7 linked regions of the Homo sapiens genome follow. The protein of the gene in region 3 purifies or fractionates together with the protein of the main gene of each other region. This does not show direct contact. Each region holds a gene or a part of one and is shown on either strand. Other genes may lie near its edges. The genes, in order: USP47, TFR2, LRRFIP1, MTCH2, ARID2, NCAPG and SMC4.

Evidence for each region.
Region 1: the proteins of LRRFIP1 (region 3) and USP47 fractionate together in Homo sapiens (co-fractionation; one large-scale study listed by BioGRID). This does not show direct contact.
Region 2: the proteins of LRRFIP1 (region 3) and TFR2 purify together in Homo sapiens (affinity purification with mass spectrometry; 2 studies listed by BioGRID and IntAct, with this or other methods). This does not show direct contact.
Region 4: the proteins of LRRFIP1 (region 3) and MTCH2 purify together in Homo sapiens (co-immunoprecipitation; one large-scale study listed by IntAct). This does not show direct contact.
Region 5: the proteins of LRRFIP1 (region 3) and ARID2 fractionate together in Homo sapiens (co-fractionation; one large-scale study listed by BioGRID). This does not show direct contact.
Region 6: the proteins of LRRFIP1 (region 3) and NCAPG fractionate together in Homo sapiens (co-fractionation; one large-scale study listed by BioGRID). This does not show direct contact.
Region 7: the proteins of LRRFIP1 (region 3) and SMC4 fractionate together in Homo sapiens (co-fractionation; one large-scale study listed by BioGRID). This does not show direct contact.

What each region holds. Positions count from the first base shown.
Region 1 is NC_000011.10:11,949,972-11,953,471, forward strand, and holds part of USP47 (ubiquitin carboxyl-terminal hydrolase 47), read left to right. Parts: coding exon 1-33; intron 34-392; coding exon 393-511; intron 512-2,769; coding exon 2,770-2,900; intron 2,901-3,500. UniProt on the Homo sapiens protein: Ubiquitin-specific protease that specifically deubiquitinates monoubiquitinated DNA polymerase beta (POLB), stabilizing POLB thereby playing a role in base-excision repair (BER). Acts as a regulator of cell growth and genome integrity.
Region 2 is NC_000007.14:100,631,553-100,635,052, reverse strand, and holds part of TFR2 (transferrin receptor protein 2), read left to right. Parts: intron 1-1,402; exon of another isoform or gene 1,403-1,496; coding exon 1,497-1,637; intron 1,638-1,712; coding exon 1,713-1,824; intron 1,825-1,929; coding exon 1,930-2,052; exon of another isoform or gene 2,053-2,130; intron 2,131-2,854; coding exon 2,855-2,971; intron 2,972-3,107; coding exon 3,108-3,247; intron 3,248-3,500. UniProt on the Homo sapiens protein: Mediates cellular uptake of transferrin-bound iron in a non-iron dependent manner. May be involved in iron metabolism, hepatocyte function and erythrocyte differentiation.
Region 3 is NC_000002.12:237,749,587-237,753,086, reverse strand, and holds part of LRRFIP1 (leucine-rich repeat flightless-interacting protein 1), read right to left. Parts: intron 1,888-3,500; coding exon 1,816-1,887; intron 1-1,815.
Region 4 is NC_000011.10:47,632,560-47,636,059, reverse strand, and holds part of MTCH2 (mitochondrial carrier homolog 2), read left to right. Parts: intron 1-488; coding exon 489-515; intron 516-1,325; coding exon 1,326-1,388; intron 1,389-3,500. UniProt on the Homo sapiens protein: Protein insertase that mediates insertion of transmembrane proteins into the mitochondrial outer membrane. Catalyzes insertion of proteins with alpha-helical transmembrane regions, such as signal-anchored, tail-anchored and multi-pass membrane proteins.
Region 5 is NC_000012.12:45,904,206-45,907,705, reverse strand, and holds part of ARID2 (AT-rich interactive domain-containing protein 2), read right to left. Parts: intron 2,773-3,500; coding exon 2,628-2,772; 3' UTR 1-2,627. UniProt on the Homo sapiens protein: Involved in transcriptional activation and repression of select genes by chromatin remodeling (alteration of DNA-nucleosome topology). Required for the stability of the SWI/SNF chromatin remodeling complex SWI/SNF-B (PBAF).
Region 6 is NC_000004.12:17,824,479-17,827,978, forward strand, and holds part of NCAPG (condensin complex subunit 3), read left to right. Parts: intron 1-489; coding exon 490-579; intron 580-903; coding exon 904-1,083; coding exon of another isoform or gene 1,084-1,089; intron 1,090-3,500. UniProt on the Homo sapiens protein: Regulatory subunit of the condensin complex, a complex required for conversion of interphase chromatin into mitotic-like condense chromosomes.
Region 7 is NC_000003.12:160,402,650-160,406,149, forward strand, and holds part of SMC4 (structural maintenance of chromosomes protein 4), read left to right. Parts: intron 1-26; coding exon 27-218; intron 219-1,678; coding exon 1,679-1,855; intron 1,856-1,938; exon of another isoform or gene 1,939-2,036; intron 2,037-2,095; exon of another isoform or gene 2,096-2,176; intron 2,177-3,500. UniProt on the Homo sapiens protein: Central component of the condensin complex, a complex required for conversion of interphase chromatin into mitotic-like condense chromosomes.

The sequences.
Region 1 (3,500 bases), on a different chromosome or scaffold from region 3:
GGAGCAATGTGGTTTAGAGCTCAGTATTGACAGGTAAAGTAAAATTAATGTCATCAGCGATTTGAAGAAAGACTATGTGGTCAGTTGAAATGGACTGGTATGATTTTCTAAAACTAGGAGAATTAAAATTTCCTGTGCTATTCAGAATTTTAGTATGACAGATTAGTTTAATAGGACTAAACAAGAGTATTAAAATTTTGTTTGGATTTCCTATACAGAATTCTAAATTTGAATTACTGGAAACATTTCTTTATTTCCCCAGATTTTAACAACTCATTATTTGACTTTTGTATTTGAACATAGTTCATTTTTCTTTGGTGTCAGATTAGTGTCAATCTTTAAATTGAGAGTTTCAAATTATAGTCGTTTTAAATGTCTTATCACATTTGTAGGTTTCGTCTAAGGAAAAAAACATGGAAGAATCCTGGCACTGTCTTTTTGGATTATCATATTTATGAAGAAGATATTAATATTTCCAGCAACTGGGAGGTTTTCCTTGAAGTTCTTGATGGTATTTTCAATATTTTTGGGGGGAAGTATCAGTTAGAAATACTCTAGAACTAATAGAAGCCTATAGTTTTTAATCAAATAATGAGTTACGAGGAATCTAATATACATTATAGTGTTTTGTGTTATATTAAGCATAACGATATCCTTATTATGGATTGATGTGATTCCTACCTACGTCTTATCCTTGGGAGTTTTATTTTCTTCCCCTGTGTCCTAATGTAACTGCTTAAGTTGTTTTTGAAAGAATAATCAGTGTCTTTCAGCCTTCTGCTATCTTTCTCTGGTTCCCATTTGCCTTTTAAGTATTCTTTTTTTGAATGTTGAGAATATTAATTCCCCCTTATGAGGAAATTACAAAGTTAGGTTTTTAATACATTTTAAGAAAACTCTGCTAATATTTTCTTAGCCACGTTTGTTCTTTAGTTTCTTTTTTACTATTATGGCTTATTTTGTATTGAAGACATGGTACTGATAATTTATCAGAGACTCAAGAACAATGACTATTTGTGTCCTAAGCCAGGTGGCTTAAAGAATAGAAGTGTATTGTCTCACAATCTGAGATCAGGCTGTCAACAGGGTTGGTTCCTTCTGAGTGCTGTGGGGGAGAATCTGTTCCATACTCTCTCCTAGCTTCTGTGGTTTTTGGCCATCATTGGCAACCTTGGCTTGTAGATACATCACCCCAGTCTCTGCCTTCATCTTCATGTGGTGTTCTTTCTGTGGGCTTGTCTGTCTGTATTGTTTTCCCCTTTTTCATAAACCACTAGTCCTATTGTATTAGGGCCCACCCTGAAGACCTTATTTTACTTTGAGTATCACTGGAAAGACCCTATTTCCAAATAAGGTCACATTCTGAGGTACTAGGGATTAGGATTTCAAAATGTCTTTTTGTGGGGGGCACAATTCAACCCATAGCAGTGACCTTGAGGAGGTCCAAGTAGCAGACATACTTGTCACACCTCCCAGTTTTCGTTATCAACATTGGCACATTTAAAGTATTGGTGTTTGGAGGGAGGCTTATAGGAGGAAAGTTGGCTTTTAGAAGATCACATCAAGGTAAACAACTAGTTCTATATTCTTTTTTTGCTGTTGCTTAGGAAAATTTTAATTTTCCTTTTCTTCTGTAGAAAGTAAAATATGAATTCTGGATATTTTGTTACAAGATTATCCTAGTTTTTAGAGAGCTCAATAATACTAACACCTCATGTATTTCAGGCTGCTTCAGGTCTAATTCAACCATAAATTTAAATGGTTGAAATTCTGATTAATTGACAAGTTAAGTTGGGAGGTAAGGAACAACTAGGATACCATCTACTATGGTGTGTAGGCAAGTGCTCCAGATTGTGATTTCTTTGAGTATCTGGGGTCGTAGGGAATAATCACTGTGCCTGGGTAAGTCAGGAAGAGATCATAAATGACAAAGAAGTCACCCTTGTAAGGATTGAGTATGTATTAGCAGAGATGGATTCATCTGAAAATGGTACTAGATGGTGGGTGCCTGCATCAGTATTATTTCAGTATATTTTCACATCAAGATAGTTGAGTAAGAAATGTCATGTGATTAAATCCAAGAGGTATTTATTGACCTGTAATTTGCCAGACACTGCTAATCCCTTGTGCTACAAAAATGAGTAAGAACCACTTATTGGTGCACACAGTCTGTGGAAGAAACAGAACTGCAAACCTGTCATTCTAAAATAATAGGTACTAAGGGACTGAATCAGTAGAAGTTCTTCTTGTGTACACCAGAGAAAAGTGACAATTGAGTTGATGCTTGAAAAGTGACAATTGAGTTGATGCTTGAAAAGTGACATAATGGAAAAGTGACAATTTTGAAGAATCACTAAATTGGGGAGTAAATGGAAAGAGAAGGATTAATAATAGCTTTAGTGAAAAAAGAGGATAAAGTGAAGTTGATTTGTTTATGATTTTAGATAGGGATAGGAGCCAATAGAGAAACAAAGATTGGAAATCCAGAGAAGAGAGTAATTGGTAATGCAGTGTTCAACAGGAGTCAGGAGGGAGTGGAATTAGGAGTACTGGTTTGAAGAAGAGAGGAATTATCTTCTGAGACTGGAGAGAAGAGAGTAAATATTTCATTCTCAAAAACTCCTTGGGATAATTGGGTTTTTTCTTGTGCCCACTTTTTAAGAGTAACACTTGAAGTAAATCTTTTTGTTTAGTAAGGCACTAAGGGAAAAGTCAAATTATGAACCTTCAGAGGAAATAGAATGATGACCTAATCTTGCATATTCTTAGGGGTAGAGAAGATGAAGTCCATGTCACAGCTTGCAGTTTTGTCAAGACGGTGGAAGCCTTCAGAGATGAAGTTGGATCCCTTCCAGGAGGTTGTATTGGAAAGCAGTAGTGTGGACGAATTGCGAGAGAAGGTAAGTTCATTTTAAACAAAACATGTATCTTATGTTGTATATGTATATCATAATATTAATAAAATATATAATATATAAACAATACATTCTTCCTGTGTTGCGTAAGAGAAAACCTAGGAAGTAGTACCAAACACTGGTGCAGCAACCTTTCTTTTTGGTTTCTGTCACACCTTGTGGCACACTCTGGTTGTTCAGGCTCCTGATTCTTTGAAAAATTACTTTGGCTCCTGGCCATTCAGAAGTGGATCCTCACTTTCTGTTACTTGGACCAATTTTGTCCTAAGTAGTTAGAATTAGTTAGAAGTTACTAGAGTGAATTGCTTTATGTCTAAAAAAAACCAAATGAAGTCGAATTGTGTAGAGAATCCAGATGAAGGTCTGTTTTGCATTTTAAGATGGGATATCTAAGGATCTCTGGGGAAAGGGTGAATTAGTCAATCTGTGGTACTAGCACAATGAGCATTTTGAAAAAGATTTATTTCCATACTTCATACTAAACACAAAAATAAATTCTAAATGTATTAAGTTTATATATAAAAAAAGTAAATGTACTAGGTGAAAATATGTAAAATATTAAATACTAAAAATATTTTCATATTC
Region 2 (3,500 bases), on a different chromosome or scaffold from region 3:
GCAGGAGAATCACTTGTACCCAGGAGGCAGAGGTTGCAGTGAGCTGAGATTGCACGACTACACACCAGCCTGGGCGACAGAGCGAGACTCCGTCTCAAAAAAAAAAAGAAAGAAAGAAAGAAAAAAGAAAAGAAAAGTGTGTAAAGAAAGACTATAACCAGGATCCTGATTTAGATTGCAGTTCAGGGAAGGCTTCGTTGAGGAACTGACGAGTCTAAACTGCCAAGATGAGTAATTTGCCAGGCAAAGAGACTGTGGAAAAACATTCAGGCTGAGATTCACCATTTGCGAAGGGTCTGAAATGTGAAGATGGTGGCCTCTTGGAGGAAGGGAAAGATGGTCCATGTGGCCGGTGAGGTGGATGTAGCTCAGGCCCTAAAGGGCCTTACTGGCTACTTTAACTGTTTTGAATTGAATTTTCCTGCCTCATCCCTGAGTGATCCTCCCCACTCCCCTCCCCATAAGCACCTTATCTCACGCTTTTGATGTGTAGCTTTAAATACACATATGGGGCGGGTCGTCATGGTTCATGCCTGTAGTCCCAGCACTTTGGGAGGATCGCTTGAGGCCAGGAGTTCAAGACCAGCTTGGGAAACACAGCAAGACTTCTCGTCTACAAAAAATTTTTAAAAATCAGCGGTTGGTGGCGTACACCTGTAGTCCCAGCTGCTCAGGAGGCTGAGGCGGGAGGATGGCTTGAGCCCAGGAACCGGTGATTCCCCTGAGTACCTTGGTGTAAAGTGTCTCCATGAGGCCCACGTGGAGGATGGGGGAGATGAGGAGGGTCTGCTGCCTGCCCAGTTAGCTCTTTCGAAGGAAAGTGTTTGGGTGCTGTGTGTGTGTGTGTGTGTGTGTGTGTGTGTGTGTGTGTGTGTTGACGTCGGGAGGAACGAGGTTGGGGGAGAGAGTTTGGCTTGAGCCGGGAAGAACCTACAGGATGATGGGCAGGACCCCCAGCTATGGGAAGTCAGGTTTTAAGCAGAGTGAGGTCCTGAGAGTCTCCGGCGCCGCCCTGGTGGTGATGGGAGAAAATGGGTCCGCGGAGGGCCCTGCACTGCGGCTCGCGCCTGTAATGCCAGCACTTTGGGAGGCCGAGGCGGGCAGATCACCTGAGATCAGGAGTTTGAGACCAACCTGGTCAACATGGTGAAACCCGTCTCTACTAAAAATACAAAAATTAGCCGGGCGTGATGGCACGTGCCTGTAATCCCTGATACGAGGGAGGCCGAGGCAGGAAAATGGCTTGAACCAGGAAGGCGGAAGTTGCAGAGAGCCGAGATTGGTCCACTGCACTCCAGCCTGGGCGACAGAGCGACACTCCGTCTCAAAAAAAAAAAAAAAAAAAAAAAAAAAAGCGTCCGCGGGGAGCGCTCTTTTCCTAAACTCAGGAACCCCTCGCCGCCCCTGCCCCTGGCGACCCCACGTCTCTGGCATCCTTCCCTCTTCCCTCCCTCTCCTCCGGGCGCCCAGAAAAGTCCCCACCTCTCCCCGCTTAGGCAAACCAGCCTTCGGGAACGGGTGGCAGGCTCGGCCGGGATGGCCGCTCTGACTCAGGACATTCGCGCGGCGCTCTCCCGCCAGAAGCTGGACCACGTGTGGACCGACACGCACTACGTGGGGCTGCAATTCCCGGATCCGTGAGTGCGCGCGCGGGCGGGGGGCGCGCGGGGAGGGGGACGCGGCTCGGGGCGCTCACCAGCCCCGCTCCCCAGGGCTCACCCCAACACCCTGCACTGGGTCGATGAGGCCGGGAAGGTCGGAGAGCAGCTGCCGCTGGAGGACCCTGACGTCTACTGCCCCTACAGCGCCATCGGCAACGTCACGGTGAGCACCCCCTGCCCGCTCCTAGGATGGGGCGCGGCACGAGCCCTTTCCTGGGTCTCGAAGGAGGGACGCGGGGAGCGCGCCTCACCGTCCTCGTGTCCCCAGGGAGAGCTGGTGTACGCCCACTACGGGCGGCCCGAAGACCTGCAGGACCTGCGGGCCAGGGGCGTGGATCCAGTGGGCCGCCTGCTGCTGGTGCGCGTGGGGGTGATCAGCTTCGCCCAGAAGGTAAGTGTCCCTGGACAGAGGGAGGGCTTGAGCCCGGGAACCGGAGGGTCGGACTGCCAGTGAGAATCGTTCAGGGTGCTGTGAGAGGGAGACAGGAAAGAACCATGTGGCTGGATGGTAAGAAAATATAAGCTGGGCACGATGGTTCTCACCTGCAATCCCAGCACTTTAGGAGGCCAAGACAGGAGGATCGCTTGAGGCCAGGAATTCAAGGCAACACGGTGAGAACCCCCTCTCTACTAAAAAAAAAAAAAAAAAAAAAGGTTCTTTTTTTTTTTTTTTTAGTTAGCTGGGCTGGTGGCACATGCATGTGGTCCCAGCTACTCCGGAGGCTCCGGTGGGAGGATCGCTTGAGCCCAGGAGTGCCAGGCTGCAGTGAGCTATGATCGCGCCACTGCACTCCAGCCTGGGCAAGAGAGACTCTGTCTCAAAAAGAAAAAAAAAAAAAAGAGAGAGAAACAGAGAAGGGAGGGAGGGAGGGAGGAAGGAAGGAAGGAAAATGTTGGCTGGTCTGGGAATTGAATCAGAAGGAAAAAAGAAAATGTTGGCTGGGAACAAATTGGGTGTTGGGGGAAATCAGATGGGGAAGGGAACAGAAACATGGGGTACCCTGGAGCCCGGTGGGGTTTGAGGGCTGCCTAGGAGCTGCTGAGGTTGGGAAGACACAGGCCAGGTAGTGCCCCCACATCCTCTCCGTGGGATGGACAGTTGCAAGCAAAGGCCTTGCCATTTCCTGGTTTCTCCTGCCCTTATGAATCGGGTTTTTTTCTGGGAGGAGTCCTCTAGTCACCTTCCTCCCCAGGTGACCAATGCTCAGGACTTCGGGGCTCAAGGAGTGCTCATATACCCAGAGCCAGCGGACTTCTCCCAGGACCCACCCAAGCCAAGCCTGTCCAGCCAGCAGGCAGTGTATGGACATGTGAGTCTGGGGAGGCTGGTCGTGCTGTTCCCAGGTCCCGAGGCCACACCTTCTTGCTCAGAATAGGGCTGGCATGTTTTTCGTTTTTCCTGGAAGCCCAGCTCGCAGCTTTGCGTGGGCACCCCTTTCCCTGCAGGTGCACCTGGGAACTGGAGACCCCTACACACCTGGCTTCCCTTCCTTCAATCAAACCCAGTTCCCTCCAGTTGCATCATCAGGCCTTCCCAGCATCCCAGCCCAGCCCATCAGTGCAGACATTGCCTCCCGCCTGCTGAGGTGAGGGGAGTGTTGGGGACCAGAAGAGGAGGAAGCAGAGAGAGGAAGGCTGCAGCGAGGCCACAGGGTGATTGTGGGTGAACTAGAAAAAGGTGACTCTTGTTTAAGCCTGCAGTGAGCCATGACTACACCACTGCACTCCAGCCTGGGAGACAGAGAGACCCTGACCTTTTTTTTTTTTTGAGATGGAGTCTTGCTCTGTCTTCCAGGCTGGAGTGCAGTGGTGCAATCTTGGCTCACTGCAACCTCCACC
Region 3 (3,500 bases):
TGGACACACTCATTAGAACAAACGAGATACCAGTATGGAAAGGGATGTGGTCACAGAGGCAGTAGAGTCTCTGGCCCCACTCAGTAGCTGGGGAATCCCCCCAGCACGGCGTCCTAGGGCTGGGTGTCAGGCTGTTCAACAGATTTCTGAAGAATCACTCGAGGCGTGTGACCAGCCCTTGTGAAAGAGCCAGTGTGTGATGGCTGAGATAATTACATAGGGCCACAAGCCAGTGACTGCCAACCAGCCCTACTCTGGCTTATGAACCAGGAAAGGAGCAGTAGTGAGTTCAGATTTTTGACTCATAGGAAAATGGCAGGCAGATCTCACTGGGTAGGTCCTGGAAAGACAAAGGTCATTCCCTTTGAAGGACAGTCCAGAGAAAGAGGCCTGTAAAATACGCATGGCGATGCCCTCACGTGCCTCACACCCTTGCAGGTCCCCAAACATGAGGAGGGGAAGGCGATTCCAAAACAGAGAGGCAGAACCTTCAGGGCGCATACATGCAGAGCTAAAGGCAGCGGCAAGAGCTGCCAGTTCAGGTGCAGCAGAGGCTACCAGGGGGCTGGAGGGACCAGTGCTGGTCTAGCTCTGTACCTCCACACCAGGACAGCTGCTTCACGTGGGACCAGCGGGTCTCCGGTTGGTTCAGTGGCTCCCCAGCAGCATTTTTTCTTTTTTGAAACAGTGTCTCGCTCTGTCACCCAGGCTGGAGTGCAGTGGCACGATCTCGGCTCACTGCAGCCTCCACCTGCCAGGTTCAAGTGATTCTCCTGACTCAGCCTCCCAAGTAGCTGGGATTACAGGTGCGCACCACCACACCTGGCTAATTTTTATATTTTTAGTAGAGACGGGGTCTCACCATGTTGGCCAGGCTGGTCTCAAACTCCTGACCTCCGGTGATCCACCCACCTCGGCCTCCCAAAGTGTGGAATTACAGGCGTGAGCCACCACGCCTGGCCAAGTGGCTCCTTTTCGCATGAATTGAAAGCCAGAGTCTTATTTTTCCCCCTTTCAGGAAAGGTGGCAGATATGAAGATAGTGAATTAGTCATGATCGATGTCACCTCCTCTGTCTGGTGCCCTTTGATATTAAATTCAAATGATCTTGCAGGTACTTTCTAGGGGGCTGAAAAGGAAGTAACAGATACGCCACCCACTTCCAGATCCATGATCCGCTGCTGCCTAAGGAAGACAGTCACTGATTGCCCACCTTACTGTCAAGGAACAGGGCAACCACATCTCCTGGCTGGTGCAATGAAGTCACTGCACACTCTAAAAGCAGTGTGCACACGCTCCAAGAAAGCCAATGCCATAGTCAGTCTTTACTTCAATTAGTAGCATTTTACAGGGTGCAAATAATTGGGATGTTTCAAAAGTGTGGCATGTGAGGACGGCCTTATTAGTAGACATCAGATATTTTGAGAAGCAAATCAACTGAAGCATTTTTGTATACAACTACTACAAAAAGTGAAGAAAACCAAGAACCTTCTTCAAGTGTCTGGCACACGCCTATGGGAAATGAGAAACTGGTTTTAAGCCTGGGGGAAGGATGGTAAGTCTAAGGCATGCATCAGGGAGTATGTTAGTAACCTTTTCTACTGGGCAGTTACATTTTCAATCTTGGTTCAAACAATGCATTTGGGAAAATGGTGAGTGTACACCCATGCCGGCACTCCTGCCATTGTGAGTTCTTCTACACCCTGGAGCCTATTTACAGTAAGCATGCACTTTGAATTTCTTCTTTAGGATGTTGTTTTTTTTTTTAAGTTAAGTTGGGTTAATATCGTGAGACCACACGTCTGTGAATTGGTACCTTCATCTCTTTCAATCCCTGCATGTATTTGCCTTCTACATCCTGAATCTGGTCCTTTAACTCATTGAGTTCCTGGGGGAAATGGCAAAAAAGGCAGATGATGTCAAGGGAAAACAGGTGATTCCCTAAATCTTTTATACTTCAGGGTAGTTTCTATTTGGGTAGTCTGAGCACCCAATTTTCTTTTTTATTTTATTAAGCGTTAAGGGAAAATAAACTTCAATATTTAAAGATTAAAGTTCAGGTGTATCCCATATGATATTTTTACATGATTTTATACAATTTTAGTGTATCTCATATGATTTTACACAGTTTAAAAAACAGACAAAATAGAGCCTCGGAAAACGGTACAGGTTATTTCAACTCCTATTTAGTAATTCATTCAAGCACTAGGAGTTCCTACTCTGTGCAATGTACAGTAAGATGCTAGAGGCAAAAATCAGTAGCACTTTTTCCCTGCATTTATGGAGCTCCAAGTCTCTACTTTGCCAAATTCCTGGTGCCGGGGACAGCATCTGGCACCAGCCAGCCTCTCAGTAAGTACCTGAACAAATGAACGGCACGCGCAACCTAAGGGCAGAGAAACATCAGGACTGCCGCCAACTCTGCTGCTCTGCTGTAGAAACGGAAACAACAGGCCAGGCGCAGCGGCTCACGCCTGGAATCCCAGCACTTTGGGAGGCCGAGTGGGTGGATCACCTGAGGTCAGGAGTTCAAGACCAGCCTGGCCAACATGGCGAAACCCCGTCTCCACTAAAAATACAAAAGTTAGCCGGGCATGGTGGCGGGCGCCTGTAATCCCAGCTACTCAGGAGGCTGAGGCTGGAGAATCACTTGAACCTGGGAGGTGGAGGTTGCAGTGAGCCGAGATCGTGCCATTGAACTCCAGCATGGGTGACAAAAGCAAAACTCTTGTCTCCAAAAAAAAAAAAAAAAAAAAAAAAAGAAAGAAAGAAAAGAAAAGAAAAAGGAAAAAAAAAGGGAAGCAACAAGGAGCTGCAGGTGGCCCAGGGGTGGCACATGGGAAATGGCTCTTCTGGTTTTGTAAACTTATAAAACATAGGTGTTGGAAGCATCTTCAAGGTAACCCTGGCCAAACTCTGGTGGATGCTTAAATCCCTCTCCGTCCTCCCTGGCAAACGGCCATCCAGCTGCTCAGACATCCCCAGTGGAAGTTGCTTCCCTTTTAAACCTAGTTTAAAGCACTAGAAAATTCAGAATCTGAGTCAGTTCTGGCTCCTTTCAGCTGCTTCTGTCTTGGTTCTGCTCCCTGGAGGACACAGGTCTAGTCACCTCACCTGCCCTTCCAGTCTTCAGGTTTTCAGATGCACTGTCCCTAGTTACTTTAACAAATAGCACCGTGTTTCTCTTTCACACACAGAATACTACCAAATGCCTGGCACTGTCCTGGGTGCTGAGGATAGAGCAGAGAATAATACCTACACTACAGTGGGATAAAAAAAATCATTAAAATACAAAGATGAGGGCTACTAAAGGCACATTACAAAGAGAAAGGAAAGGGCAAGTTCTAGGCCGAAGGGGAACATACTTAGTGGGGAGGGGTTGTGTGAAAGTAGGTAAAGCCGTCTGGTGTCCAAACTTGTGGACTGAATGTCTATGCAGACCAAGCATACAGAGACGACCAAGTGCATCAACACAACGTGCCAAGTGCTCTCACTAAGGTA
Region 4 (3,500 bases), on a different chromosome or scaffold from region 3:
GCCTCCTGGGTTCAAGTGATTCTCCTGCCCCAGCCTCCCTAAGAGCTGGGATTAAAAGCGTGCGCCCCAATGCTCCGCTAATTTTTGTATTTTTAGTAGAGATGGGGTTTCACCATGTTGGCCAGGCTAGACTTGAACTCCTGACCTCAGGTGATCTGCCCACCTCGGCCTCCTAAAGTGCTGGGATTACAGGCATGAGCAACCACACCTGTCCCCTTTTCTTTTTTCAAAGAAGAGTTTTCATGACCATTTGCTTTTCTTCCAACTGACCAATATGTTAAACTTAGCAACAAGTTTATCTTGGAGATCCATATTTCCAGTTGATTAATGAGTAGAAGTTAACTGAAGATTTGCAGCTTAAAAAAAAAAACAAAAACTTTAAAAAAAACTTCAGCTAATTTACTTTCTGTCAGTAGAGTTTTCATTTTATGTCTTCTTTCACATGACACTGTAATAACCCTAATCATCCTTTTTCTTTTTTTCTATAGCATTACCAGGAGAGTGACAAGGGTGAGGTATGTTGGAGCTGATTTCTAAGCATGAGGGCCTTTCCCTTGCAAGTTGTTACTGCTTTTGGGGCCTCTTTTGGAGAAAAGCCAAGTAGTCAGTCTCCTATTCATCTCAGTGAGTGTTGTCCTATGGGGTGGCCACCAGTTTGGACAGTTCTGTTTGAAACCATCAGGATGGCTGGGCATGGTGGCTCATGCCTGTAATCCTAGCAGTTTCGGAGGCCAAGGTGGGAGGATCACTTGCATCTAAGAGTTTGAGACCAGCCTGGGCAACATAGACCCCTTCTCTACAGAAAATCAAAGATTAGCGGGGCCTGGTGGCACATACCTCTGTATCTCAGCTACATGGGAGGTTGAGGTGAGAGGATCACTTGAGTCCAGGACGTCAAGACTGCAGTGATCCATGATCACATCACTGCACTCCGCGTGAGTGACAGAGCGAGACCCTATCTCAAAAGAAATAAAAACCGTCAAGATCGGCCGCCCATGGTGGCTCATGCCTGTAATCCCAGCACTTTGGGAGGCCGAGGCAGGTGGAGATCACGAGGTCAGGAAATCGAGACCATCCTGGCTAACACGGTGAAACCCCGTCTCTACTAAAAATACAAAAATTAGCAGGGCGTGGTGGCGAGCACCTGTAATCCTAGCTACTTGGGAGGCTGAGGCAGGAGAAGCACTTGTACCCAGGCGGTGGAGCTTGCAGTGAGCCGAGATTGTGCCACTGCACTCCAGCCTGGGCGACAGAGCGAGACTCTGTCTCAAAAAAAAAAAAAAAAAAAAATCAAGATCTCTATTTTCTTTGATTTTGATTTCCAGGAGTTAGGACCTGGAAATGTACAGAAAGAAGTCTCATCTTCCTTTGACCACGTTATCAAGGAGGTAAGAGATGAATTACATCCTGTGCTGTTTGCCCAGATCAAACTGTGGTGTTGCAACTATGGAATCAGAATCATCAGGCCTGTGTGTTCAGTGTCTGTTCCCAAATGAAATTAAACCTTCAAATTAATTTGGGCTTTACTACATGTATAACATTAAAAAGAGAGAGGATCAGTGCTTGCTGTTCAGAATAGATGCATTTCAAGAAAACTCATTTTGCCCACACATTCCGTCTTTAGAATACTGAAAGTCTTCTAATAGTGTTGAAAACCTCAGGAATAAAAGTGTTAAAATAGGCCAGGTGTGGTGGCTCACGCCTGTAATCCCAGCACTTTGGGAGGCCAAGGCAGGAAGATCACTTGACCCCAGGAGTTAGAGACCAGCCTATGCAACATAGTGAGACTTCCTCTCTACAAAAAAAATAGAAAAATTAGCTAGGTGTGTGGTGGCACATATCTGTAGTCCCAGGTACTCGAGAGGCTGCGGTGAGAAGATGACTTAAGCCCAGGAAGTTGAGGCTGCAGTGAGCTATGATTGTGCCACCATACTCCAGCCTGTGTGATAGAGCAAGACCTTGTCTTTAGAAAAAAGTATTAAAATAGCGACCAGGCCCTTTGTATGTTGGATAGTATCTATGCAGAAAGGCTCTTTTGACATTTTTCTGACTCTGAAAAGTTCCTCATCACCCATTTCCCACCCCCATATGCTGCCATAGGTGTTTCTGTGCCTGGCTTTCAGAACTATTCTCTTATTACTTAAGTCTTCACATTGTCTTAATTGTCATTAATGAAGTCACAATTATCCAGGAAATGCAGCCATCCAAAATACATATTCCAAAGGCTGGGCGCAGTGGCTCATGCCTGTAATCCCAGCACTTTGAGAGGCCGAGGCGGGCGGATCACCTGAGGTTGGGAGTTGGAGACCAGCCTGACCAACATGGAGAAACCCCGTCTCTACTAAAAATACAAAAATTAGCCAGGCATGGTGGCGCATGTCTGTAATCCCAGCTACTTGGGGGGCTGAGGCAGGAGAATGGCTTGAACCCGGGAGGCAGAGGTTGTAATGAGCCAAGATTGCACCATTGCACTCTAGCCTGGGCCACAGGAGTGAGACTCCATCTCAAGAAAAAAAAAAAAAAAAAAAAAAAATATATATATATATATATATATTCCAAAACAAACATTACTAAAGGTCTGGAAACCAGATAAATTAGCTCTATTTTCTGTAAATTTTCATGAAATTAGTTTGCTTAAAAGCAGGGATACGGCCGGGCGTGGTGGCTTACACCTGTAATCCCAACACCTTGGGAGGCCGAGGCGGGCAGATCACGAAGTCAGGAGATTGAGACCACCCTGGCTAACACGGTGAAACCCCGTCTCTACGAAAAATACAAAAAAATTAGCTGGGCATGGTGGCAGGCGCCTGTAGTCCCAGCTACTCGGGAGGCTGAGGCAAGAGCATGGCGTGAACCTGGGAGGTGGAGCTTGCAGTGAGCCAAGACTGCGCCACTGCACTCCAGCCTGGGAGACAGCGAGACTCCCTCTCAAAAAAAAAAAAAAAGCAGGGATACATGTATTACTATGCAATTAGTATTTTCCTTAGTTTGCCCATCCAGTCCCATAGGATCTTATGCCCTTGGAGAAGGGGTGAGGGCTGTCTTAAAACTCAGTGACTAGGCCGGGTGTGGTGGCTCACACCTATAATCCCAGCACTTTGGGAGGCTGAGGCGGGCAGATCACGAGGTCAGGCATTCAAAACCAGCTTGGCCAACATGGCGAAATCCCATCTCTACTAAAAATACAAAAAAAATTAACTGGGCATGGTGGTGTGTGCCTGTAATCCCAGCTACTCAGGAGGCTGAGGCGGGAGAATCACTTGAACCTGGGAGGTGGAGGTTGCAGCAAGCTGAGATCGCACCACTGCACTCCAGCCCGGGCAACAGAGCAAGACTCTGTCTCAAAAAAAAAGAAAAGAAAAAACTCAGTGACCATAAAGATACTGTTTAAATGCAAAAGCCGGCCAGGCACGGTGGCTCATGCCTGTAATCCCAGCAGTTTGGGAGGCCGAGGCGGGCGGATCATGAGGTCAGGAGATCGAGACCATCCTGGCTAACAC
Region 5 (3,500 bases), on a different chromosome or scaffold from region 3:
ATACTGTAAATCAGCAAGTTTCTGTCTAGCAAGGAGCACCTTTTCATGAATGAGAGGGTTTTGCAGAACTTATTGTGCAAAAGCACTTTAATTCCATTACACAGCAAGTCCATATTATTATATAGTTCTATAAAGCTATAAGAAGAAAAACCTAAGTGGGAAGCCATGATCAGTTTCATTAGGTCAAACGCATTTAGGAAATTCTCTGCTGAGACTGAAGCTTAAAAGGCTACAGTCATATTTACATATTATAGCAGAAAAGCTAGAACTACAGCATGCAATTCAATGAGGTGGAAGAATGGTGAATATGAAAACCATTTTTCTAAACCTGCAGTTTGTTCTCTTTTCTATTAATTTAATTACCACTGCAGTTTCTGATTTTGAGAAGACATTATCTTTCAAATAAACGTTGTTGCACAAATTTACTTTTTAAAAGAGATTTTTGGATAAGTACGGTGAATAGAAAATTCCCCATATGATGTCAACTACCAGGTGCTTGTAAGTTTGAGGGCTCTGAAGGCCATCCTAGGGATACCCACATGATTTCAGCGGTGTCTGTTGGGCAGTGCCAGTCTTGGAAGGTGGGCCAAGCATAAATTCCACAACCTTATAACTAATATTAGATGAAGTTTCTCAAACATTCCTTTGAGACATGGCAGGACAGCGCCAGGGATCCTCCTTCAGGAAGAAACTAGATTTTACATTGGTACTAATTCAATCAAAATATTTAAAACATTTTTAATATGGAAACTGAGGCTTTTTCACTCTAAGAATCTGCCTCCAAATTCAAGCTGAAGATTTGGATACACTGTGATTCTGAATAAACAGTCAAGAAACACAACATCAAACAATAAAAGCTTTTAGCCAAATGTACAGTATCCAGTAAAAAAAGGCATATTGAGCTTTAACTGCATCAATCATTTGCTGTTCTCTACATTTGCTCTGCATTATAACAAGATGAAAAATAAATACTTGGTTAATCTGCTTATTTCATGCAAATTTGTCATGTAAAGGACCTCTCTTATTTGTTCTCTATTTAATATGTTATCAATCAACATATAATCAAATAGGTAGGTGACCGTTATACCTTGCCTTCAGCTGAATTTAGAATTCTCTCTATATTTTTAAGATGTCTTAAGCATACTCAGAAATGAAGGACTCAAGAAAATGTTCAGTCTTTTATTTAAAAACTATAAACAGTCACCAAAGTAAATAAAGCCATTCTATAACATAAACTGTTAGGTCTATATTTTTTACTGCACATCCTAAGGACACAGCAGAAATGGTGGTTGGGAGGCCTTCCACATTTTTGGATGCTAATAGAACAGGCAATAGGCAGTTATAAATGGATACATTTCACGCTGGGGGAAAAAAGACAATTTAAGGAAGTGAGCAGTTTCTGAGCAGGAATGTGGTACAGTATTAAGAATGGAAGAATAATACAATAAAATTCCACACTATATTAAGATAGAAAAAGTAGTGAAGAAAATATCATACCTGCACATAATGCATATATAACACAGGAGAAAACCTGTATAAAATTCCATGTATTTAAACCAATTTACAAATACAAAAAATTCTGTCCAAGCTCTGAGCTTGTACACGACAAACGTTTACAGTGGATACATGTTAAGGAAAACCAAAAAATACCTTCAAATAGTTTTTCTTCTAAAAAATGACATGAGATATATTATTCCATACTCTTTCAGCCAGCAAAATGAGTTCTACAAGGTGTATAATACAAAAAAAAAAAGAAAAAAAAAAAGAAAAAAGAAAAAAAAATCACAGTTCCACAAAACTGTTTTGACTTTACAGCATCAGTACCTTTGCAGAAGTATTTACACAAATTTAAAGAACATTCATCCACTGCATAGAATATATCACAATTACTTACAATTGACAGGAAAGTCTAGAAAACTTTAGAACCTACCAATAATGCTTCTAGGACACCACAGAATGTATTTCCAGTGGCTGCAGTGGCATGAAAGGTATTCATTCTATTCACAAATATTTACAAGATCTATTCAGACTGGTAAATTTTTATGATAATAAATAAGTGAAAATATATTGGCTCAAGTAAGAAAACCAAGCTACTGATTTCTAAACAAAACACACGATCCATAGCTAGATATTGGTGGCCCCCTCTGAGATCGGGGGTATAGGTGTGCTGAAACTTTTTTAAATTATTCAAACCAGCTTAAACGGTTTTGTAAATATAAAAATGTGCTCCTTTTTGGATATAGATAAAAATATTTAATGCTTCTATTTCATCTGCTCATGTAGGTTTTACAATATTCCATGTATATTCCAATGTGGATGGTACTGAATTCTGATCATACCAGTTTCCATCAGGATTTATCAGATCTGAAACATCCTGCAGATAAGCTGGTTGACAATCCCACAGCAGTTCTTTTTTTTTTTTCCTTTTTCTTTTTAGATTTTTTTAAACAGAGAACAAAGGGATTCACTCAGAGATCAGAATACGAAGCTTCCTCTCAGCATCATGGGAGGAGATAAAATAATTCATTCTATGGTCTTTGTTCCATTAAGACTTGGTGCTTTCTTCAGTAACAGTATGTGAAATGTGGCTGACTTTGAGTCCCCCACTGTGTAAGTGGAATTATTTTTCACTGCAGCATTTCTGAGTCTTTTTCTTGTTCCTTACTCTGAACTGTAAAATTAAGTTCATAAAGGCATTTGGCAAGGGTGGAGGAAGCTTCCATGTTACTAATGGCTAGCACTGATAAGTTATTTTCATGTCTCTTTAACAATCTGCAAAAAAACATATAGAAGATTGTCAGTCTCCAAGGTCACAGCGATGACTCTTTATCATGAATTTTGCAAGTTTAAAAACTAAAATAGAAACAATACATAGCTCCACACCCCGTAAATGTTAATATAGTATTGCAGGAAGAGAGGGAAGCATCTGGGAAACAACTAGAAGGATAAACTGAGGCTGACTATTACTGTTTGCCTTTTCTGCATAGTACCTTTTTTTTTTTTTTTTTTTTTTTTTGAGAAGGAGTCTCACTCTATTGCCAGGCTGGAGTGTAATGGCGCAATCTTAGCTCACTGCAACCTCCACCTCCCGGGTTCAAGTGATTCTCCTGCCTCAGCCTCCCAAGTAGCTGGGACAACAGGCGTGTGCCACCACGCCCAGCTAATTTTTGTATTTTTAGTAGAGACGGGGTTTCACCATGTTGGCCAGGACGGTCTCGATCTCTTGACCTTGTGATCCACCCGCCTTGGCCTCCCAAAGTGCTGGGATTACAGGCGTGAGCCACCGCGCCCAGCCTCTCCATAGTACCTTTCTAAATATGGAAGGCTGCACAGCAAAATTCTTTTTCAATCTTCATTCATGTTTCTAGAAAATTTAGAAAATGGTGTCAGAAAACAGCTGGAGAGGAACAAAATGGTTGCTTTTAAGGGATGACATGAAATTAAAATTATATTGTAGGTATAATTAAAGCTTCTTAGTCTTCATTAAGTGAAACCAAGCC
Region 6 (3,500 bases), on a different chromosome or scaffold from region 3:
CTTTTCCTGATCAGCCAATTCCAATATACAAGTGGTTCTGAAAGGAAAGTCCTTCCTTATGCTATTATTATTTATGCATTGTCTACCCAAAGGAAGAATAAAAGGATATTCCATTTTTCTGTGTTTAACTCCTACAGAGCTGAACAAGAGAAGGGTTGAGGATTTTAGGCAGAGAATTTAAGTGTCTCATCTTAAGCACCATAATTCATATTTCTGTTTTTCAAACATTATATGAGGGATAATTTACTTTCACTGTCTGTGTGCCTATTTCCCTTCCATTCAAATAATTTCATTTTGTAGTCAGATATATTGTTTTGTTTTGTTTTTTTCTAAAATTGTCTAGCAAACAGAATGTGTGCTATTTCTACCAGTATGTTTTTGCTCCATTATTCAATATATGGTGGATACTACTTGGAGTTTTATATAGAATTTTGATACTATTTGCTGATATATCAAACATATATTAAAGCATGTACTCTGAACTTACAGGTTACAGAAATTATCTCAGAGATTCGGGCGCCCATTGTTACTGTTGGTGTTAATAACGATCCAGCTGATGTAAGAAAGAAAGAACTCAAGGTAAGTCTCTTTTAAATGAAAGAAGTGCTTGAGTGTAATGTAGCTGGGCAAGTCTATTCTTTCCTCTTGCTGTGCAGTTCTGAAATGTTTCTCACATAATCAAATTATTGTTTAATTGTTAAACTATAAGAATATTTAAAATGTTACCACATATGTCAGTCTCAGAGATATGCAGATCTCTGTGTCAGGAAAACTACAAGTTTGCATATGCCTGACTCATTAAATTCTGGGCAGTTGAGATATTAAATAATACTCCTGAGTTGCTACAGATATTCATATTAACAGTTTTTGTTCAGTGTTGAAACAATTTATATCTTCCCTTAGATGGCTGAAATAAAAGTTAAGCTTATCGAAGCCAAAGAAGCTTTGGAAAATTGCATTACCTTACAGGATTTTAATCGGGCATCAGAATTAAAAGAAGAAATAAAAGCATTAGAAGATGCCAGAATAAACCTTTTGAAAGAGACAGAGCAACTTGAAATTAAAGAAGTCCACATAGAGAAGGTACAGGTAACTTTTTTCATACTAAATCTCAGGTGTTATTAATCATCTCAACTAAATCTTATTTTCTCTAACTTCTAGAATTGCCAAAATATATTTACTTTGAGCACTTTGTAATAGTGACATGAATTAAAATGAAAAAAGTTTTTCCCTGTTTCTATTTTTGGACTTTGAAAGGCCTTAATTAACTTTAATTATTGGAGGTAGGACTTTATTTGCTTCCTTGTCATGCTAATCTCTAGAATCCGAAGTCTTTCTTACCAGGGAAGCTAGCTTTCCAGTGGTTCACATCTGAGTTTTCTGTTTTTTGTCTTGAATGGTTTAAAAAAGGAAAATACATCCATTTTCCTCTTATTTGTGGAGGATCAATGACCTTTCTTTTTTATTGCTAGCAAAATAATTTCTATGGTAACGTGCATTTTTTTAAAGCTAAATTACTTTTGTGTTTTTAGAAAAAGCTACGCAGCTTTGTTATTTTTAATGAAATACTGAAATATGTCTAGTAACATTTAAAGCTTGCTTTTCAGTAGTTCGTTTTTTAAAAAATTAGTTTGTTAAAGTACTCTCTTAAATGGAGTATGTCTTTCCTTCTGAAAGAAATTTTTTGTTAATGGTATCGATACCATTCTGTCTTACAACAAATGATAAATATGTAAACATAAGATAGGTATCAATTAATATTTGATATTAACTTTAATTTCTTTTGGGATCTTGCCTTTTGTAATGAACATCATTTATTGTTGTACTTTTGGGATGTGCTGATTATTCTCATAAAAAGAATGCTAAATAGGAGACTCTTTTATATAGGAGAGTTTCATGAGTTATGTTTCTGATCTCTTTAGCCATAGACATCCCAACTCCAACACCCACCTTCCCAGAGTGTATGCCTGAATTTTATTTTGATAGCTGGTGGCTTCTTTTATTTGACGAAGTCTGTGGGCCATTATAGGCTATTAAATTTGGAAAGCAAATTTAAAGCAAAAACTGAAAATATCATCTGAAAAATGACAAACTTTAGGTCAAAATTATAAAATTAGCAAAAGTAGTCTATCATGGTTAATATCGTCTGTTTAACTTGACTTGCTTTGACCATTTATGTGTCTATTTGTCCTGTTCGAGGGCTACAAATCTGTTAAAATGCAACTACAACAGAGCATAATAAATGCTATGGTCAGGGAAGTATAGAGGTTTTATGGAGAGGTTTCTAGTGCTGGTAGAGTATTGTTGGCTTCCCCAGAGGAAGACATGTTTTATCCTGAGATTAGAATAAAAATAACAATATAATCTAACAGTCAGAGGATACTTTTTCTGTGGTAGTCACAGCATTAATTACTTCACAAATGTGAATTCATTCTTTTCTTCCTATAGGCCTATGAGGTTGGTACTATTATTATCTTCATTTTACAAAGGGCAAGTAACTTGCCCAAAATCACACAGATAGTAAATGGTGGAGGCAGGATTTAAACCCAAGAAGTGGCTCTAGACTTGTGCTTTTAACTCACTCTGTGCTGTCTCTCCTCAATGAATTATGGAAGGAATGTTGTAGACAGATGGAGCAACATCTGTGATGGTCCAGAAGTTAAAGAATGCCTATTATGTTTTAAAACTTCAGGTCCATGTGACTAGAGAATTGATGGGGAGAAGCAGGAGAAAAATCTGGGGAAAAATTAAGGGCTAGGTCATGTAAGGCTTTGCGTAAGCAATATTAAAAATTTTGTATTCTAAGGATTGTGGTGAACCACTAGTATTTTAAGTGGTTAGGTAAGTCTTATGTCTCAGATCACTGTTGTTTAGGAAATGGATTGGAGAGTAGTAAAAGCTTAGACAGGCATAATAGTTGGGAGACTTACAGTAGGGTTGGGAGACTTACAGATGATGGTAGTCTGAACAAGATAATGACAGTGGATTTGGAAAGTAGTGATGAACTTGAGAGGTATTTAGAAATTAGTAACGGAGAAAAGGGAGTCAGGAATGTATCTTAAGTCTTTTGGTTTAGACAACTGGGTAGATGGTGATGACAGTATGAAGATAGAGAACAAGGAAGAGGAGAGATTTGTGTAATGATGAGTTCCCTTTTGGACATGTTGAGTTTGAGGAAACTGTGGAACATCAAGAGGAAATGTCTTTTAGCAGTTATATATATGAATCTGAAACTTAGAAAATAGCTGGGCTAGCTCATAGATGATAAACGAGGTTGTCAGGTTTTTTTTTTTTTGAGGTGATAATTAGGCAAGATGAAGATTAGACTTTTTTTTTTTTTTTTTTGAGACAACGTCTCCCTCTGTTGCCCAGGCTGGAGTGCAGTGGCATGATCTCAGCTCACTGCAACCTCCACCTCCCGTGTTCAAGCCATTCTCGTGCCTCGGCCTCCCAAGTAGCTGGGACCACAGGTGTGCACCACCACACTAATTTTTGTGTTT
Region 7 (3,500 bases), on a different chromosome or scaffold from region 3:
GTTTTGTTTTTGTTTTTTTAATGCAGCGCTTTTCCTGTATTATCGGGCCAAATGGCAGTGGCAAATCCAATGTTATTGATTCTATGCTTTTTGTGTTTGGCTATCGAGCACAAAAAATAAGATCTAAAAAACTCTCAGTATTAATACATAATTCTGATGAACACAAGGACATTCAGAGTTGTACAGTAGAAGTTCATTTTCAAAAGATAATTGATAAGGTAAGGGATTTTTACTGTTATTGGCAAGTTCAAGTAAGGAAAATGGACTTAAATGCATTACATATTTTATTTTTGGCTTTAAGAAATTTGTATGTAATTACAGCGGAAAGCATTGGTTTCATTATCTCTGACCGTATTTTATTTTGGGGGAGTGGTGGTGCCTGTTAAAATACTTATTTTTTAGCTAAAGAAATGAAGTATAAATAGTTCATAGTAATCCTTTTTGGAATAAAAGCATTGAGCAGTTTTAGGGTCCTGAGTACTAAATAGGCATTATTTTACTATAAATATTCAGTTCATTTTTAAAGTTATATTTTGATTGCTTTAGAATAAATTAGCTAAACTTGAAAATGTAGCAGTTAGCCGGTTTTACCATCTTCATTATTTCAGTGCATTTTAACTCTAATGTTAGTGGCCCCTGAGTATCTGTGATATGAAAGAGCTTTGCTTCAGTTTGACTACTGCTGTAATTAAGTCCTTTAGAAATGGGGGAAGGACAAGCTAATGTTTGTTTTCTAGAAATGGAGACAACTAGAGGTAAAATGTCTAGATTATTTACCTGTTGAGACTTTTTCTCTTCTGTTTAATAATGTAGGAAATTGATTGTTCAAAAATGACTCGATGGAACCTAAAAATATAGAAAACTAATTACATAATGAAATTGGGAGGTGATTTGTCTTTTGAATTCGTTTTCCTTTTTTTAATACAAAGTGCTTTAATTACACAGAATCATCTATTTTAATTTGGTTTCTTTTGTGCTTTCTATTGTACAAGTTGGGTTGGAAAATAGATTGCCAGGAAATCAGATTTTATTCCATTGCATATTAATTACATTTGATTTATCTAAATTTTAGAAGCCTTTGCTTCAGTATGACAGAACTTTTAAGGTTAAGGGAAAGTGTTAAAGTAGATTTGCAATTGATTTTTTTAAAAATCTGTTTAAAAGAAAATCAAGGGAATTTAGTTGTTATTTCTTTGTGATTCTTTTTACTTTAAATTAACGGCACACTCTTTACCCTCCCACACAAAAAAACTAAAGTGTATCACCCGGTTACTACCTTCCTTCCTTTTTCTTTGAATCATCATTTTAAAAAGCTGCAGCTTTTTAATCTGTCAACATGTTAATAATTTGTGTGGGTTTTGGATATGGTGGGAATCTTGTCTACGTCTTCTCAATCATAAACGTTTTTAGGCTTGTTTGGAGGTGGGTTTTTTCGTTGGCTGGTTGGTTTGGCTTCTTGATTTTTGTGATCTTTGAGAAAGGGACCAAAACAGCATGGAAAAGTATCAATTCTTTGCTAAGTTGGGTTATTAATGAGAACTACTGGCAGTTTGTGTGCATGTTCAATTGAAGTTTTTAATCCATAGAATTAGTTTCAGTATGAAATGAGTGAATTTTGAAGTAGGCCTATGACTTAATACCAACAATTGTTTTCTGGTTTTGTTTTTCCTCAAAACAGGAAGGGGATGATTATGAAGTCATTCCTAACAGTAATTTCTATGTATCCAGAACGGCCTGCAGAGATAATACTTCTGTCTATCACATAAGTGGAAAGAAAAAGACATTTAAGGATGTTGGAAATCTTCTTCGAAGCCATGGAATTGACTTGGACCATAATAGATTTTTAATTTTACAGGTAAGTTTATTAAAGACTTCAAAGATTCTCTTATTCTTGTTACTTTTTTTTCTATAAAGCTAGGTTGGATGAATCCTACATTTTTGAGGCCTTAAAGTACTGTAGCAGCACATCATGGTTTACATGCTACAGTCAAGATGCGAATCATTATTTGCTGCTCTAGAAATTTAAGGAAATTCATTCAAAACTATGTTTTCATCATCAGATGTTCGTTTTATGTTTGGATGAACTGACATACTTGTTCCACTCTAGCAGCACGTAAATATTGGCGTAGTGAAATATATATTAAACACCAATATTACTGTGCTGCTTTAGTGTGACAGGGATACAGCAACTATTTTATCAATTGTTTGTATTTCCCTTTAAGGTAACATTTTAAATGAAATGTATTATATTTTAATCTATCCTTTTCCTTTGTTTTTGTTCTTATTATCTCTTCTGATATATAACCAAAAAATGAAAAAATCTGTACACTTGGTGTTTGATTTACCTAAGCACCTAGTTAATTTAATCTTTGTAACACTTTGGATGGTTAACTTAACCTTTACTCAAGTTGGTTTTTGTTTTGTTGAAAATGACTTACTTGGTGGAACCACTACTACTGAAAGAACGAAACTTTGATATTACATTGTTAAGTATCAGAGCTGTTACAGAGCAAGTCCTTTTAAAGAGATGTAAAAATTAAGTACCTGTGCCAAACTGATTTTTATTAGAAACCCTGTTTTCTTTAAGTAAAAGTATATTCTACCAGCATGGCTTGGTAAGAAAAATCCCCTATCTTTTTTTCCCTGTCCTCAAAATTCAGAATTTTTCGGAAAAAAAAAAAATTAGGGTAAAACCATGGCTTTGTCAAGTTCCTGTTTGATTCGAGGGTATCTTCTTTTCCTGTGTTCTATCCAGAATCACCGAAGCATAATAAAAGCAAAACTATTTTGTGATGCAGAAATGACTGAAATAAGTAGGGAATTTTGTTAGGGTGACTGGATGTTCCTAATAACAAACTTATAAAATGTTAGCCTCTGTTTCCATTTTAGTCTTTATTCTTCAATTGTTTCTAAAAATTATTACTTTTAGACATTCATAGTATACAAGGTAAATCAGTATCATTCTAGGATAACCTTTTTTAATATCTTTTGTTACCAGGCACAGTATATTTGCAATACTTCAACCTAAACTTATTTAAAAATTAATGTTGAGGAAATTAATTGCAGATATATTTCTAAACAAGATTGGAATTTATAGAATGTGGCATTAAAGGATTTTGTGTGTTTTTAAAATCAAATTGAACTGTTTTATTGACTTACATATTCTGGGACTTGGTTTGGTTAATAATGGATAAAAAGTTATGTCCCTATATAATACTAAATTTGATGATGATACCAATTTGCAGGAAATTGTACTTATGTTTATCTTTTGCTTAATCTTTTACCGTCATCCTGGGATAATCAAAGTTTTACATTTATCCAAAGATTCATCAAAATACACTGCATTTTAACCCTTCTAAGGATAATTTTTTTCTCTGTACAGCATCTCTGTACGTAATTCAGTAATAAAGGAAGCTAATGTAATATTGTCCCAACGAAGTAAATAATTTATAAATTGTCAAATTTATATTACATTTGTGCTTCTGAAGTATATGGGATGC